Linked DNA regions of Homo sapiens. The protein of the gene in region 1 purifies or fractionates together with the protein of each later gene. This does not show direct contact. Each region holds a gene or a part of one and is shown on either strand. Other genes may lie near its edges.

What was found. Proteins that work in one complex are often made in the same cells at the same time.
Region 2: the proteins of RGL4 (region 1) and OCIAD1 purify together in Homo sapiens (affinity purification with mass spectrometry; 3 studies listed by BioGRID and IntAct, with this or other methods). This does not show direct contact.

Annotation. Positions count from the first base shown.
Region 1 is NC_000022.11:23,686,473-23,694,038, reverse strand, and holds the start of RGL4 (ral-GDS-related protein), read right to left. Parts: upstream 3,027-7,566; 5' UTR 2,009-3,026; coding exon 1,830-2,008; intron 1,705-1,829; coding exon 1,511-1,704; intron 1,371-1,510; coding exon 1,048-1,370; intron 281-1,047; coding exon 65-280; intron 1-64.
Region 2 is NC_000004.12:48,841,082-48,848,110, reverse strand, and holds part of OCIAD1 (OCIA domain-containing protein 1), read right to left. Parts: intron 5,476-7,029; coding exon 5,422-5,475; intron 1-5,421. UniProt on the Homo sapiens protein: Maintains stem cell potency. Increases STAT3 phosphorylation and controls ERK phosphorylation. May act as a scaffold, increasing STAT3 recruitment onto endosomes. Involved in integrin-mediated cancer cell adhesion and colony formation in ovarian cancer.

The sequences.
Region 1 (7,566 bases):
ATGGAGGAGAAGAGGAAGTTCCCCATTTTTAAAGAGGGAATCCCCAGGCCCAACCATAGCTTACCCTGGCCACCTTGATCCAGTGCTCCACCACCCTGGCCCTGTCCCGGGCCCTCATGCTGTGGTCCCCGAGGCAGGAGGTGGTGATGCAGTTGGTGAGCCTGTTGAAGTGTGCGATGGTGGCACGAACTGTGGGTGCCATGTGCTCATTCCCCTTCAGATGTCCTTGGCCCCAGATGCAGCCCAAGCATTCGTGGAGCACCACCTTCTTGAACAGCTCCTTTGGGGGAGGAGGAGAGTGTCACGGACACAGCACACTGCAGCTCAGAGTCACCCACAGTCCCAGGCAGGGACTGAGCTCACAGTCATCCACGGTCTCTGGCAGGAACCAAGCTGGAGCTCAGAAAGCTTTAAAATGGGCTCCAGACTTGTGGGAGTCCCTGGGTTTGGTTTTCTGCCCCCGAGGGACCTGAATGCATCATGGCCTAGAACCCAACAAGGGTGGGAAGAGAGAGTGACATTTTCTCCCAGGCCATCCACACTCTAAGAACTAGAAGGTGGCTCAGGCCTGCCCATCCTGAGGCCTCGTCTTCCTCCCATCCCAATCAGCCCTCTACTACTCCTCTCCGTACCGGTGCACTTTCCTTGTGGCAGCTGCAACTATGGGCTCTGTTTGGGTGTCTACCATAGAATCCAGTATGCATCAGGTACCTAATAAGTGCTGAGGGTAGTGAGGCTCCTGAGCAGCTGGGTGAGTGACCCATGGCCCTGCCTGCCCCACAGTGAGCACCTGCCCTGCCCTGCTTTCTGTCCATCTCCTGTCACTCAGTCTGCACAGTCACTCTGTGCAGCTGGCGCTGGTGATGTCCCATCTCTGCCGTCCACATGCAGACAGGGAAGGCTTGTGGGTGAGGAAACTCATCCAGATCCCACGGTTGGTAAGAAGTGGGGCTGAAATTGGACCGAGGGCATTGGCTGCTCCTCAGGGAGAGGCTGGTCTGAGACAGCTGGTGCCAGAGACACAGCCTGCAAAGCTCAGCTGCTCACCGCATCCATGAGGGTCAGCTGCTCTGCCAGCAGCCTGGGAGGGAAGGTCGTCATGTCAGGCAGCTCCTCACTGGGTTGGTTCTTTACAGACCCACGACAGGGACAGGAGGACTCTGGGGCTGACTGTGGCTCCAGCACTGTCCCTGGAGGGGGCCCTTCCCCTGGTGCTGGTGCTGGCCCTGGTGCTGAATGTAGATATCCTGGTGGACCCAGGGCTGCAGGTGACTCTGGCTCCAGAGCAGGCCCCAGGTCCGCCAGCAGTGGTGGTGCTGGCTCCAGGGCCGGCATTGTTAATGCGTGTTGCCCAGGACGTGGAGCAGGATCTGGAAAAGGAGAAAAGGTCACCACACCAGTCATTTTTCACTGGGTTTTCCAAGCACAGAAATGACCGGGTGGAATTTAAGGGAATTGTAGCCCCAAAACACCACCCCCGGAAAGTCTTGCAGACTGCAAGCCCCCTCACCATCTGGCTTGGCCTCGTTGGGCTCCGGAAGCACCAACTGGCCTAGGACAATTTCCTGATGGTCCTCCAAGCCCAGTCCAGGCCAGGAGAGGTTCCTGAAGGCCAGCTTTATCCGGAAAGATGACCGTTGCGGGGGCTGATAGTAAACTGAAGTGTTTTCGGGGGGCCAGTTGAACAAAATGGAGGTGATGGTGCTGGTGATGGAGTAGACAGCTGAGTCAGAGGCCTGGCCTTCTCCCACACAACCCTCCAGGGCACCCCTGCGTGGTTCTGGGTCCCTGGCCTGTTGCTGCCAGTGTGGAGGACAGCCCCACCCTACCGTAAGCCATCAGTGCTGTCCTGGAAGGGGCAGACCTGGCCATACAGCAGGGCTGTACAGACCCTCGTGCGCCCTGGCGTCCCACAGACATTCTCTTCCCAAAGGCCCTGGAGCACAGCACTGTACACCTGGGCACTCAAGACTGCAGCTGCAGGCAGATTTGTGAGCAGCTTCCTCATCAAAGCTCCAGATCTGGGTCCCCTGGTCCTGGGGTTAGGAGGGAAGGGGCAGATGTCGGGGGGAGGAGGACAGGGAGAGCTGGGAAGCCACGGTGCTGAGGGGGATGGGTCTCTCAGTGGCCAGCTGTGACCCCAGCCTCCCCTCTGCTTTGCAGGGGACCTAAGTCTCCATTTACAGAACTCACTATTTGCCTCTTGTGGGGGAAGTCCCCAGATGTCAGCCTTCTCGTGGGAATTATAAGAAGTATGAGCCCCAGAGCTCCTTTAGTCTCTCCCCAGCCAGAGTCCACATATTTTCCCCCATGTTTTGTGGGTGAAAAGGCCCTTCAGAACCCTAAATCCACCCAGTTTATATTTGTTGCTGGGCTGCGTCATTCTAGTCAGAATCTGGGAGGATGCCACCATACGTAGAGGAGGCCATGAGGGTCTCACCTGTAACATTCTGTAGATATGACTTGTTTATTCTGTCTACTGTGAGTGCCTGACTCTGAGTAGAATCAAGGCCGGGGGATTGTCATCTGCTTTGTTTATGAAATTATGCCAAGCCCCAAGAAGAGCGATGCACAAATGAGGTGTTTTGAATGTATGTGTTGAATGAGTGAACCCCAACCTTTGGAGAACCCCAGTGAGCCTCTCCAGATGTCTGAGTGGGCCTGTGGCTCCTTTTTCAGCACCAAGGGACCCCTCTTCTGTCTGTGTCAAGGAGAAAGACCAGCCAGAAGGAATCTCAGACATCCTTTACCAGTGCCATCGCAGACTTGGTTTCTATGTGTTTTTCCAAACAGTGAGTGATACAGGCCATTGAGGCAGAATGCTGAGAGCTGCTTCAAGTGAGGGGGAAGAGAAAAGTAACAAACATGAATCACAGCACCCCCAGCAGATTTTCCAGAGTTTTAGGCTCTAGGGACCCCTTTGTTTGCTGTGTCTTAGATCATTGAGTCCCTACAAGAACCCTGTGAGGTTCGTCTTCTCACTACTCCCTGTTCCAGAGGAGCCAACCGAGGCTCCGAGAGGTGCATCTTCAAGACAGAGCCAGTAGGGGACAGAGGCACCTCTGTGTCTTGGAGGGGGATGGACACTCACCTTCTAACCAGTAGTTCCAAAAAGTGTGGCACAGTGATAAAGTCCCAGGAGGGGCCCAGGCAGGTGGCATAGGAGGAGATGGGTTTAGTTAGAAAGGCTGGAACCAGGGACTCCCAACAGCTTCTCCCCAGTGCCGGGCTGGAAAGTTAGCATCCTGCAGATCTCATTTTCATACTAGGGGGACAAGGAGGGACATGGGAGTCAGTGGTAACACCATGGACCACCAGAGGATCGGGATCTGGAACTCACACCAAGAAGCACCAACCCTTCAGGGACTTGTGCATATGGAGAACCTGGGTGCCCATGGTGAAAAGCGTTCTAGGCTTTCAAAGTAACATTGCATGTGAGGATGGAGAATGATAAAACGATTCCTGCCTTCAAGGCATCGTCCCGGTGTTTGTCAGCTGTGGGGCAACAGCACCCTCTGTGTCAGCAACCTGCATGAAGAGCATCATCCCTGCAAGTCCTCAAGGCCTGGGGAGGCCTCATCCCCTCCTCATTTCAGCAACAGCACACAGGACAATACGCTCTAGAAGAACTCTTTGACTTAAAGGTATATGATTGTTTTTGTTCCTTTAACATGAACGTGAGTCTGGAGAAACAGCTACGGCCATCCCAGCCCTGGCCAAGGGGAAAATGCCGGAAGACTCCAGGGTGGGAGGAAGCGCGTCCCAAGGCCCAGGATCTGCGAGGCGACTTGGGGAAAACGCAGGCAGGTATTGAACCCGTGAAAGGTTACGCAAATGTATGTTTGAAAGTGGAAATGAAACAAGGATTTTCTCTGCCACACAGACAGCAGGTTGGCGAAAAGTTAAAAGCGTGTTAGTATTCAGGGGAGGCTGCGTTCAGAGAAGCAGCTACCTTCAGAGGCTGCTGGTGACCGTGTGACCAGCTGGAGCCCTTTTGGAAAGTCAACTAGCTAGAGCTGTTGAAAGTTGATATCTGCATATCCTTTCACCCAGATATCCCTTTCCTGGGTGTCTGTCTGCTGCAGGGGATTTGTTTATTTTATGGGTTGAATTGTGTCCCCTTCCCCAAATGTAACTGTTTCTATTCTCAACCCCAGAGACTCAGAATGTGACTGTGTCTGGACACAGAGTACTCCAAGAGGTAATTCAGGTGAAGTGAGTTCATTAGGGTGGCCCCTAATTTAACATGCCTGGGGTTCTTACAAGGAGAGGGGGTCAGCGCACAGAGAAGTTCAAGAGAAGACCCTGTGCTGACTGAGATAGAAGTCCGCCATCTCCAAGGCAAGGAGAGAGGCCCAGAGAAACCACCCCAGGCTGACAGTTTGACGTTGGACTTCCAGTCTCCAGAATTGTGAGGAACCAGATTTCTGTGGTTAAGCCCTTCAGTCAGGGTGCCGTGTTATGGCAGCCCTGGCAAACTGCTCCAGCCTATTAGGACACGCATAGGATTATGCTCCTTGTAGAAAGGCTGCCTCGAAAGGGAATTTTATCATGACAGGCTCCACCAGCACTGAGAGGCTGACCCGCTGTGGAAAATGGCCTCCCTTAAGGAATGTTACAATGACATGCGAGGGTACAACTCCTGCCTGATGGGGCTGCAGGGATGAGTTCTGTGAGATGACACTTTAAAGACTAATGCATAGAGTCGCTTCACCTTCTTTTGTTGTAATCAATGCACCCCCCCCACCCCCACCCCTTGTTTGTGCAAAAGTGTTGGATTTTAAGTCCTGGAGGAGGTCTGGCAGGGCAGCGGAGCTGCCTGCCTGTTGCCGGAGATCCACTTAGGGTGGGGAGTTAAAATGATAACAGTGTGAGTATTTTGCTGCAATGTTACCATTGTACTCAATTCTTAAAGCAACATGCCGAGATACTCCTGGCATAGCCTAAAGTGAAAACAGAAGGATTTTCTCTGGTCTTCCTCTGATAGGTGAAAGGGACTTTGCCTGTAACCAAGTTGCCACTGGGGACTAATGGCAGCCAGATTCCTTTGGGAGAGGACAGTGGGTCACTCAAGTGGGAACGCCCTAGGATGGAGCTTAGGGAGTCCCCATATTCGTGTCTGAGTCCTGGGCCCACCTTGGTTTTCACAAGTCCTGTCTGTGGAGACCCTTCTGTGCCCAATCTCACCGCAGACCGGCACTGGACGTGGTTGGTGGTGTGGTGCACGTGCCCTTTGAAGAATATGGAGAAATTGAATCCATCCAACAGCTCTTGTTTGGTCTGTTGTGTGGAGCTCTGCAAAGAGAGTGCCCGAGAGCCGGGCCAAGAGGTGTCAGTGGCCTGTCTGGCTGACCCCACAGTGGGACACCCCCATTAGAACTCATCCCTGGCACCCCCTTCCCCAACAGGATTTGGCACATAGGAGCATCTGCATAGACCTCCAGCCAGAGAAGCCTGAGGTCTCCGGCAGATGACAGCTTGAGGACTTGGGATTCAGATCTGAGCAGACAAACTGTGTCCTTGACACTCACCTTCCCATCCTGCCAGGCACTGCCTGGGCTGTGAACCTGACATACCTACCAGGCTCCAAACACCTGACAACCTACCTGCTCCTATCCAGGGAGGGCCCCTCATCTCCTGTTTCCCCCAAACAAGTGGGGAGGGGCCTGAGGCTGCCCTGATGGGCACAGCTGAGGCCTAGCCTGGATGGGCCTGCCCTGGGCCCTGTGTTACCTGTGGGTGCCTTCTGGCAAAGGGCCAGAGGCGTCGAGGGTGAGGGTTGAACCAATGTCTATATTCTCGGGAAAGACTCTCATTTTGGCCTCTTGTGCGACGAGGAGGTCGGCAGCATGTCGGGATACAGCAGGAGAACATGTTGTTCTCTCGAGCATCGCCTACGAAGTGAGCTGGAAATGGGGCTGTCTCTAGAATGTGGGTGCCTAGTTACCAGAATTGTAAGTTCTGTTGGGGGTCTGTCGGCAAGGAAGTGAGGTCACATCTTGTAGGTTCCATCCTGTAAGCTCCTCCTTTCCATAAGTCCTACTCAAAGGCCCCTCTGGGCTTCTGACCGCTCACCCTCCCCCGTCAACTCCTTACGTAGTCACCATTATGAAAAAGTGTGCCCCTTCAGCACCTTGGGAAGACCTGGATATAACCAGGGTCCCAGGTTTGAGGAGACAGTGCTGGGTCAAACAGCCTTTATTTTAGCAGTTGTGAGACCCTAGAGAACTCCTTTGGTGTTTTGGGGTCTCCCCAGCATGCACAATGGGGGTTATGCTAGCATCTCTTTCCTAGGGAACTCATGAGGTTATGTTTGAGATAAATATTTAAAAACTCATGGTGTGGTGTTCCCTGTGGATATTGCACACACTTAGAAATGGAACAAATACAAGAAGGGGTGAGAGGTAACGTCTAATGCAACTCCAGTGGGCCTGGGGTCCACAGTGTGATCTCGGGAAAAGACACTTTTGCTCTGGGCCTCATCTTTCATGCTGCACCAGTAGAGGTTGAGATTAAATGAAATTCAGACATCCTCCTCCTATGACATTGCACCTTCCAGTGCCTTCCCATTTTATTTAGACCCAGACCCTGTGCCTCATCTCAGCCTAGGGTGGGCAGCGTCCACAGAGACAGCACTGAGGGGTTAGTGACTCCCTTCTGAATGATGGAATATGACACAGATGATGGAATAGCACTTCTGGGCTAGTTCAGGCTGTTACAGCAAAGAAAGAGCTGTAACGGCCTGGGGAGCTCATCAAAAACAGAACTGTATTTCTCCCTGTTCTGGAGGCTGGAAGTTGGATATCAGAGTAGCAGCGTGGTCGGGCTTAGTGGTGACACTGCCGCCCCATTCATTGAGCTTTTATAGGTGCTGTCCTTTCCTTGGAGGACGCCTCAACTTTAGGAGCATGGGTAGACCTCCATTCAAAGCCCAGCTCCCCCTTGTAGCTTGGTGATCGTGAGGAAGTCATAGAACATCCCTGTGCCTGTTTTCTCCTCTGAGAAATGGCGTTAGTGAGAATTGTTTCCCTTTTTAATCACAGAAAATAAAGCATGCGAAGAAGTTAACTTGGTGCCATTGGGCAGAGGGTGAGAGCCCAGCAAACCGGAGAGATCAGCTGCCCACATCAGTGGCGAGGAGTGCGGAGAGTGGGTGAGGCTGGGGCAGGAAGCAGGCCAGCCTGCCAGAGCCCAGGAACAGGTGAAAGGCAAGAGTGAGCTCCTCACCCTGAATTCTCAGGGTTCACAGGCATGCAGGGGCTGTGGGGAGTACAATCATCAGGGCTGCTCTCGTTCCCCTGGTTCCCTCCATATCTGACGTGGTCCCAGGGCCCCTCTCCCTGTGTTTCCTCTCTGCCCTACTTTCTTTCTGGCTGCCCTCCCAGGACTCATTTTTGGCCCTGGTAAGGTGGAGTCTTGAGGTAACTATAGGCCTATTAATAACTCCTCTGATGTTCAACCTGCCATTTGTTGAGACCTCTGAGCTTAGTCAGAAATCTGCTCCTGCTGGGACCTGAGAGAGGGCTGGAGGGAGCTGACAGTGCAATGGCAGTTTTCCCTGGGGCA
Region 2 (7,029 bases), on another chromosome or scaffold:
CAAACAAAAAAACAAACATTTTTTAGAAGACAGAATTAATTATAGCACCAAAAAAAAAAACGCTCAAAACCCAGGAACAAATCTAATGAAAGATATGAAAGATCTCTACACTGACAAGTTATAAAACTTACTGAGAATTGAAAGACCCAATATTCTAAAGATGGCAATTCTCCATAACTTCACCTATAAATACAATGCAATCCCAATTAAAATCAAAGTTTTACAAAAATTGAAAAGCTTATTCTAAGAGTCATGTGGAACACAAAGGGCCAAGGCAACACTGAAGAATCGTATTATAGAACTGACTACCACCAGATAGCAAAATCTACATGATAAAGCTGTAGTAATTAAGACAGTCTGGTATTAAGTACAAGAATAGGCAAACTGACCAAAACTAAGAGTCCAGAAACAGATCCACACCTGCACACTTGATTTATGACAAAGACAACACTGCAGCATAGTCCTTTCAAATATAGTGCTGGGTCAATTAATATCCATTAACAGGGGAAAATGTACCTTGATCCTACATCGAACAATAATCCAGATGGCTTAAAAATTTAAATATGAAAGATTTTTTTAAAAAATTTTACAGAAGAAAGCATGAGACCATCTTTGTGTCCTTAGAGTAGACGAAGATCTTAAAGAGTCAACAAAAAGCACCTATTAGAAAGAAGAAACCTGATAAATTGGACTCTATTAACACTGAAAACTACAGTTAAACAGAGTGGGGAAAAAATAATCACCATATCTATATCTGACAAAAGACTCAATTCCAAAGTATACAGAGAAGTCTCACAAAACCAATAGGAAAAAAGACAATACAATGGAAAAATGGTTAACAGACTTAAACAGATACTTCACAGAAAAAGATATGCTGAAATGAAGTATAAACAAATGGAAAGGTCTTCAACTTCATTGGTTACAGGGAAATACAAATTCAAGCCACAATGCAATCAATATTAGTGTTTATTTACCACAATGGCTAAAACATAAAAGACATAAAAATAGCTAGTGTTGGTGAGAATGTAGGAGTATACATTGGTCTAAATAGTTTGGTAATATCTACTAAAGCTAAATAAATATATACAAAATCTATGACCCAGCAAAATGTCTATCAAAAAGGCACCATATTCTTGGCAAAACTAATTGTAACAGTGAAAATTGAAAACTACCAATTATCAATGCACAGTTCAGATAGATAAACTGGTGTATTCACACAGAGGAAAACTATAGGGCAACTACATGCAACAATGTGGTTAAGTGCAATGATGTGCTGGTAAACCAGCACTCCCTATAAAAAGCTCTAATTTTAATGTTTGTCAGTTTCCATGGTGTAAAGCTACCAATTCTTTTTTTTTTTTTTTTGAGACGAGTCTCGCTCTGTCCCCAGGCTGGAGTGCAGTGGCGCCATCTCAGCTCACTGCAACCTTCGCCTCCTGGGTTCAAGCAATTCTCCTGCCTCAGCCTCCCAAGTAGCTGGGACTACAGGTGCACACCACCATGCCCAGTTAATTTTTTGTATTTTTAGTAGAGACAGGGTTTCACCATATTGGCCAGGATGGTCTCAATCACCTGACCTCATGATCCGCCTGCCTCAGCCTCCCAAAGTGCTGGGATTACCGGCATGAGCCACCGTACCCGGCCAACTACCAACACTTTAAAAACCAGCTTGCCAAAGTTCCCGAAAATTTAACAACCAATTCTCAGGAGCCAGTACAAACCAGTTCCAGCATGCTACTGGATGAATCTCACCATGTTGAAAGAACTTACATAAAAGAATATTTCAGTGTATGATTTCATGTAATTAAAGTACAAAAACAGACAACTAATCTGTGCCTTTAGCCTCAGTTCCTTCATTTATAAGAACTGGGATGACAATAGAAAAAGGAAGATGGTAAGAACATCTCTATTTTTACATTAAAAAGTTGTTCCTTCATACTGTCACCAACTAGTTATAGACCACTTACAACATAAAGGTACTACATACTGGATATTAACAGGAAACAGGACACACTCTTTACTCTCATGGAATTTACAGTCTAGAGAGAGAGTTAAGACAAAGATAATAGTGTCATGGTTGCTATTCATCCCCTCAAATATTTGAGTACTATGTGCACTATGTATGTCCTCTGTCAGGTGCTAGAAATAGCTTATTTTCCTAAGGAGAAGTAGCAAGAATGGAAACAAACAGATTTGTTGAAGGTTAACGCAATACTCTTTGTGACATATGGTTGCATTAATTATGCTGGCAGTACAGATGGAGGTAGATAGTTAATAAAGACATTTAAGAGCTAAAAGACATTAATTGGACAAGGCAGATAAGGGATAGATGTGAAGGATAATGTCCCAGTTTCCTGGATAGTACTAACACCACTCAGTCATGAAGGGAAAGGAGGAATTGGTTTTGTGGAAAATGGTTGAGTTCTGTTTGAGGAGCCTATAGAAGGGCCATACATATTATATATTATATCCAAAATATAGTAACACCAACATTTCCCAAACAACTAGACAAAAAAACCCATACAAGAATGTAAGCACCAAGAGTTAATGAATTTTTGTTGTTTAGTGCTATATAACAATGTATAGTACATATCAGACACTCAAAAAACATGAAACAGAGGAATCGCCTGAGGTAGGAGAAAAATCTTAGGAATATGCCATCATGGAAGCCAAGAGAATAGACTATTTCAAGAAAAACTGGTTAAAGTTATGTAACGTTGGTCAAGAACAAAAACTGTCCATTATATTTAAGCAACAAACAGGTTGTTTTTGAAAAGTTTGTTTTTGAACTTTTGAAAAGTTCCAATAAATGGTAGAACATATGGATAGTCTCACACTGACTGCAATGGGTTAAACGAAGTAAAAAGTGAAGGGCTCATTCATGAAGTCTGCCTCTGGCTTCAAATATGAGGCAGTTGGGAGTAGCTGGAAAAACAAATGAGGGAGGATTTTTTTTTCTTTTTAATGTTCTCAAGTTAGAGGAGACCTGAGCATGTTTAAATGGTTTTGGCAGATCAGGAAGAAACAGAAGGAACATCTAAGACCACGTGGAGTATGACACACTGTGGATGAAAGGGGATACAGGCAGCCCTCCATATGTACATGTTCTGCAACCAACTGCGGATAGAAAATATTTAGGAAAAAAAAAACTGCATCTATACTAAACATGTACAGACTTGTTTCTTGTCATTATTCCCTAAACAATACAGTATAACAACTATTTACATAGTGTTTACATAGTCTTAGGTATTATAAGTAATCTAGAGATGATTTACAGTATACAGGCAGATATGCACGTAAACTTTACTAGGCCGTTTTATATCAGAGACTTAAGCTTTTGTGGATTTTGGTATCCTCTGGAGGGTCCTGGAACCAATCCACACAGACACAAAAGGACCACTGTACAAAATGTCAGGGATTTTGATTAAATGCAAAATGTCTTGGTGGATTCCAAATTCTTTTCTTAAAGTCTCTCTCAATTTTTACCTTTTTTTTGAGACAGAGTCTCGCTCTGTTGCCCAGGCTAGAGTGCAGTGGCGCCATCTCAGCTCACTGCAGCCTCCGCCACCTGGGTTCAAGCGATTCTCCTGCCTCAGTCTCCTGAGTAGCTGGGACTACAGGCACGCACGACCACGCCCGGCTAATTTTTTTGTATTTTTAGTAGAGATGGGGTTTTATCATGTTGGCCAGGACGGTCTCGATTTCCTAACCTTGTGATGCACCCGACTCGGCCTCCCAATATCACTTCTACCGTACCCTCAAGTAGCCCAAAGTCTTCAACTGCACCTAAACCCAAAATCTCTAAAAAACTTCCTCCTCTTCATAACCTAATCCAAATTATAATTTCTCCTGGCTCTACTTCAGCTATTTAATGGATTTTTCACTCCTCCCTGCATGATTTTGTCTCTTCAGTTCAGTCCTGATTGCCTCTCCCAATAGTTATGCCTATTTGTCTTCATCATCAGGTCCCTCCTTCCTGGTATGTTCTTTCTTCTCATTTAATCTAAATCCTGCCCATCCTTCAAAACCCACTTCTTTCAAGAAACTTTCCTTGATTACAACAGCCCTACAAAGATCTTTCTTCTTTGAACACCTACAACTCTTAGAGTCTCTACTATACAATTTAGTAGCTTATTAAGTATGTAATTAAATTTTCTATTTGCTTCAACATATGTTCACATCCATTTGTTTCCTCCAGTGAACTACTAGCAGCTATTAAATTCTTTTGTGTAACCTTCTGCATACCTAGCTCCAATCATTATTAAATGACACACTGGATTAAAATAGATAAAAGAAGCAGAACAATAATAAACACTGTAATTTCATCCCTGTGCCAGTTTTTCCTACAAAGAATGTAATTCAAGTGGGGTTTTTTTTGTTTTGTTGTTGTTGTTGTTGTTGTTTCACAATACAGAACCAATCTCAGTCTATAAAACAGCTTAGTCTTAAGGACATATAAGTGCATACATCTTGACTCGCTTCTATGTTTAAGATTTTTGTCATGGTACTGTATTGTAATGAAGTTCTTCAGAAGTTCCTTAAATAAATTTTTACCCCAAAAATCCTCTCATTTGCCTCCAAAACTACTTTTATCAACTAATTGTGTCAAAACTAAGTACCATACATCATATCCTAATGTGAAAAGGCTAAATCTTCCAATCATTAAGTCACATTTTTGAAGGAGCCAGTTAATTAAAACAATAGGCCTCCAGGCCATCCTAAGGTCACCATCCTTTTCTGGGACACCTTCCCATTACCAGATAGATAGTTCATGAAGTAAAGGAATTAAGCAACTCTACTGCTTACTCCACTACATTTTAAATGCAGGACTCAAGACATTTAATACTCAATCTAAACTCAATTCCACTACTGTACTATTTGAGCCAATAGACTTTAGGACAAGAAAGTCTCCTCGGTGGCTCGTTAAAAATAGATCACCTGCCAGACCCCTGAGATTCTGATTTTTTAAATAATGCTAACTCACCGCCACTCATCCGCCCCAGGTGATCAGACAAAGCTGGTTTAGAGAGCTACTGATCTTTAAATCATTATATAAGAATCACTTCGAATTTGTTAAAACACAGACTCCTGGTCCCCATGAATGTGCATTCTAACAAGCTCCTAGGCAATAATGTTGCTATTGGCCCACCTAGACCAGGTTTGCCCTGCTAATACTGGTGTTTAGTTACCTTCTTGCTCTTGCAGATTGTTAATGATGCTATTAGTGCAGGAGAAATTCTCAAGTCATGATATTTGAGCCAGTGGGTCCACAGAGATAAAACGTTTAAATTCATCAATGAATTTCTACATAGTGTTTAATATGATACATTGTTATCTTTACTTTTTCTAAAGACCTGGAAAATACCACAAAACAAACATGGTATCCAAAATGCTAAATAAATTCAAATTTTAAATATTTACCTTTACTAATTAATCCTTGAGTAATCAACATACTTGTTGCAGCCAAAGGCACAGCTATAGGAAGAAAAAGACCTTGTTAACATCAACAAAAGTAAAAGATTTTGTCTAAAGTTCATTAGATAAATGAATAGCAGTAAAACCATCTAGGAATTATATTGCATAACTAAGACCTTTAAAAAAGACTGTTCCATTTTTAAAAGCTGTACTGTATACATAGTGGAAAAATTAAAGGAGCATTTTAAATTTAAGAAAACATCACAAAATATTAAACAATATAATTCATGAACCATCTAGGCTTAGGTTCCAAATAGCCAGCTGTTCATCAACAGCATCAACTAAGACAACACAGTAAAAGTGACTCAAAATTACTTCTGAAGTAAGAGAAGGGGAAAAAGTTAATGAAGGAGAGGTAAGAAACAAGTTACAAGTAAGAACCACTACTGAGTAATGACTAAATTCTGTGCATCATGCTAAGCGCCTTATGTGCATTATCTCATTTATTATACTTTTTATCATATTTCTATAAGGTAGATAATGTTATTACCACCCTTTTAAAGATAAGGAAACTGAAGCTTAGAGATGTTAAGTAATTTGCTCAAGGCCAAACAACTAGTTGAATGGTTGGTTACAGATTCTAATAAAATCTGTCTGATACCAGATCTCAAGCTTTTAAGCTCTAGTATACCATCTAAACCAAAATACAAAACATATTTGACCGTAATCATACGGTGGCTGGGGCAAAAATTAAAAAGCACATATTTTAAACACTTATGTTCTTTCTTCTAAACTAGTGAACTCCTTAAACTATATGAAAATATTACATCTATATATATATATGCCTAAAACCGAGAGTGAAAAATCCAAAACTCATAATCTCAAAGGGGGCTATAACTTAAAAACAGCTATGAATCACTGTTCTTTACACCAGCACTGTCTAACAGAATTTTTTATGATAATGGAAGTTGGTCTTTGAGTGACCAACCCTGTGATCAATTTGGTCTTGGTACTTGACTGGTAAACAGTTCCCCCCATTGATATGCGTAATTGGCTCACTGTGCCCAAACTGTTTGTACAAATACAGTTCATGCCAAACATCTGCTTTCATTCTAGGAGTCTGGAATTTTGGTACCTGTTAGGCAGAGGGTGAATAAGTGACCAGCCCCCAATAAAAACTGTGGGCACTGAGTCTCTAATGAGTTCCCCGGGTAGATACAACTTCACACATTGTTATGACTAGCTGTTGGAGAAATTTACACTCCCTGGGAAGAGAACTCTTGGGACCTGGTTTCCGCCGGACTTCACCCCATGCTCCCTTTCCTTTTATGATTTTGCTTTATATCCTTTCACTGCAAGTTATTTTAAAGTTAAATTGCTACATGTGACTACTGGCTGCCACACTGGACAGTGCTGTTCCAGACCTGAGGTTGGCAAACACGTTCTATGAAGAGCCAGATGGTAAATATTTTGGGTTTTGTGGGCCAATCTCTGTCCCAGTTACTCAATTGCCGTTTTAAAGCAAAAGCACCGAAAGACAATCCAAAAACACATGAACGTAGCTGTGTTCCAACAAAACTTTATTTTTAGATGCAAACATATGAATTTCATGTA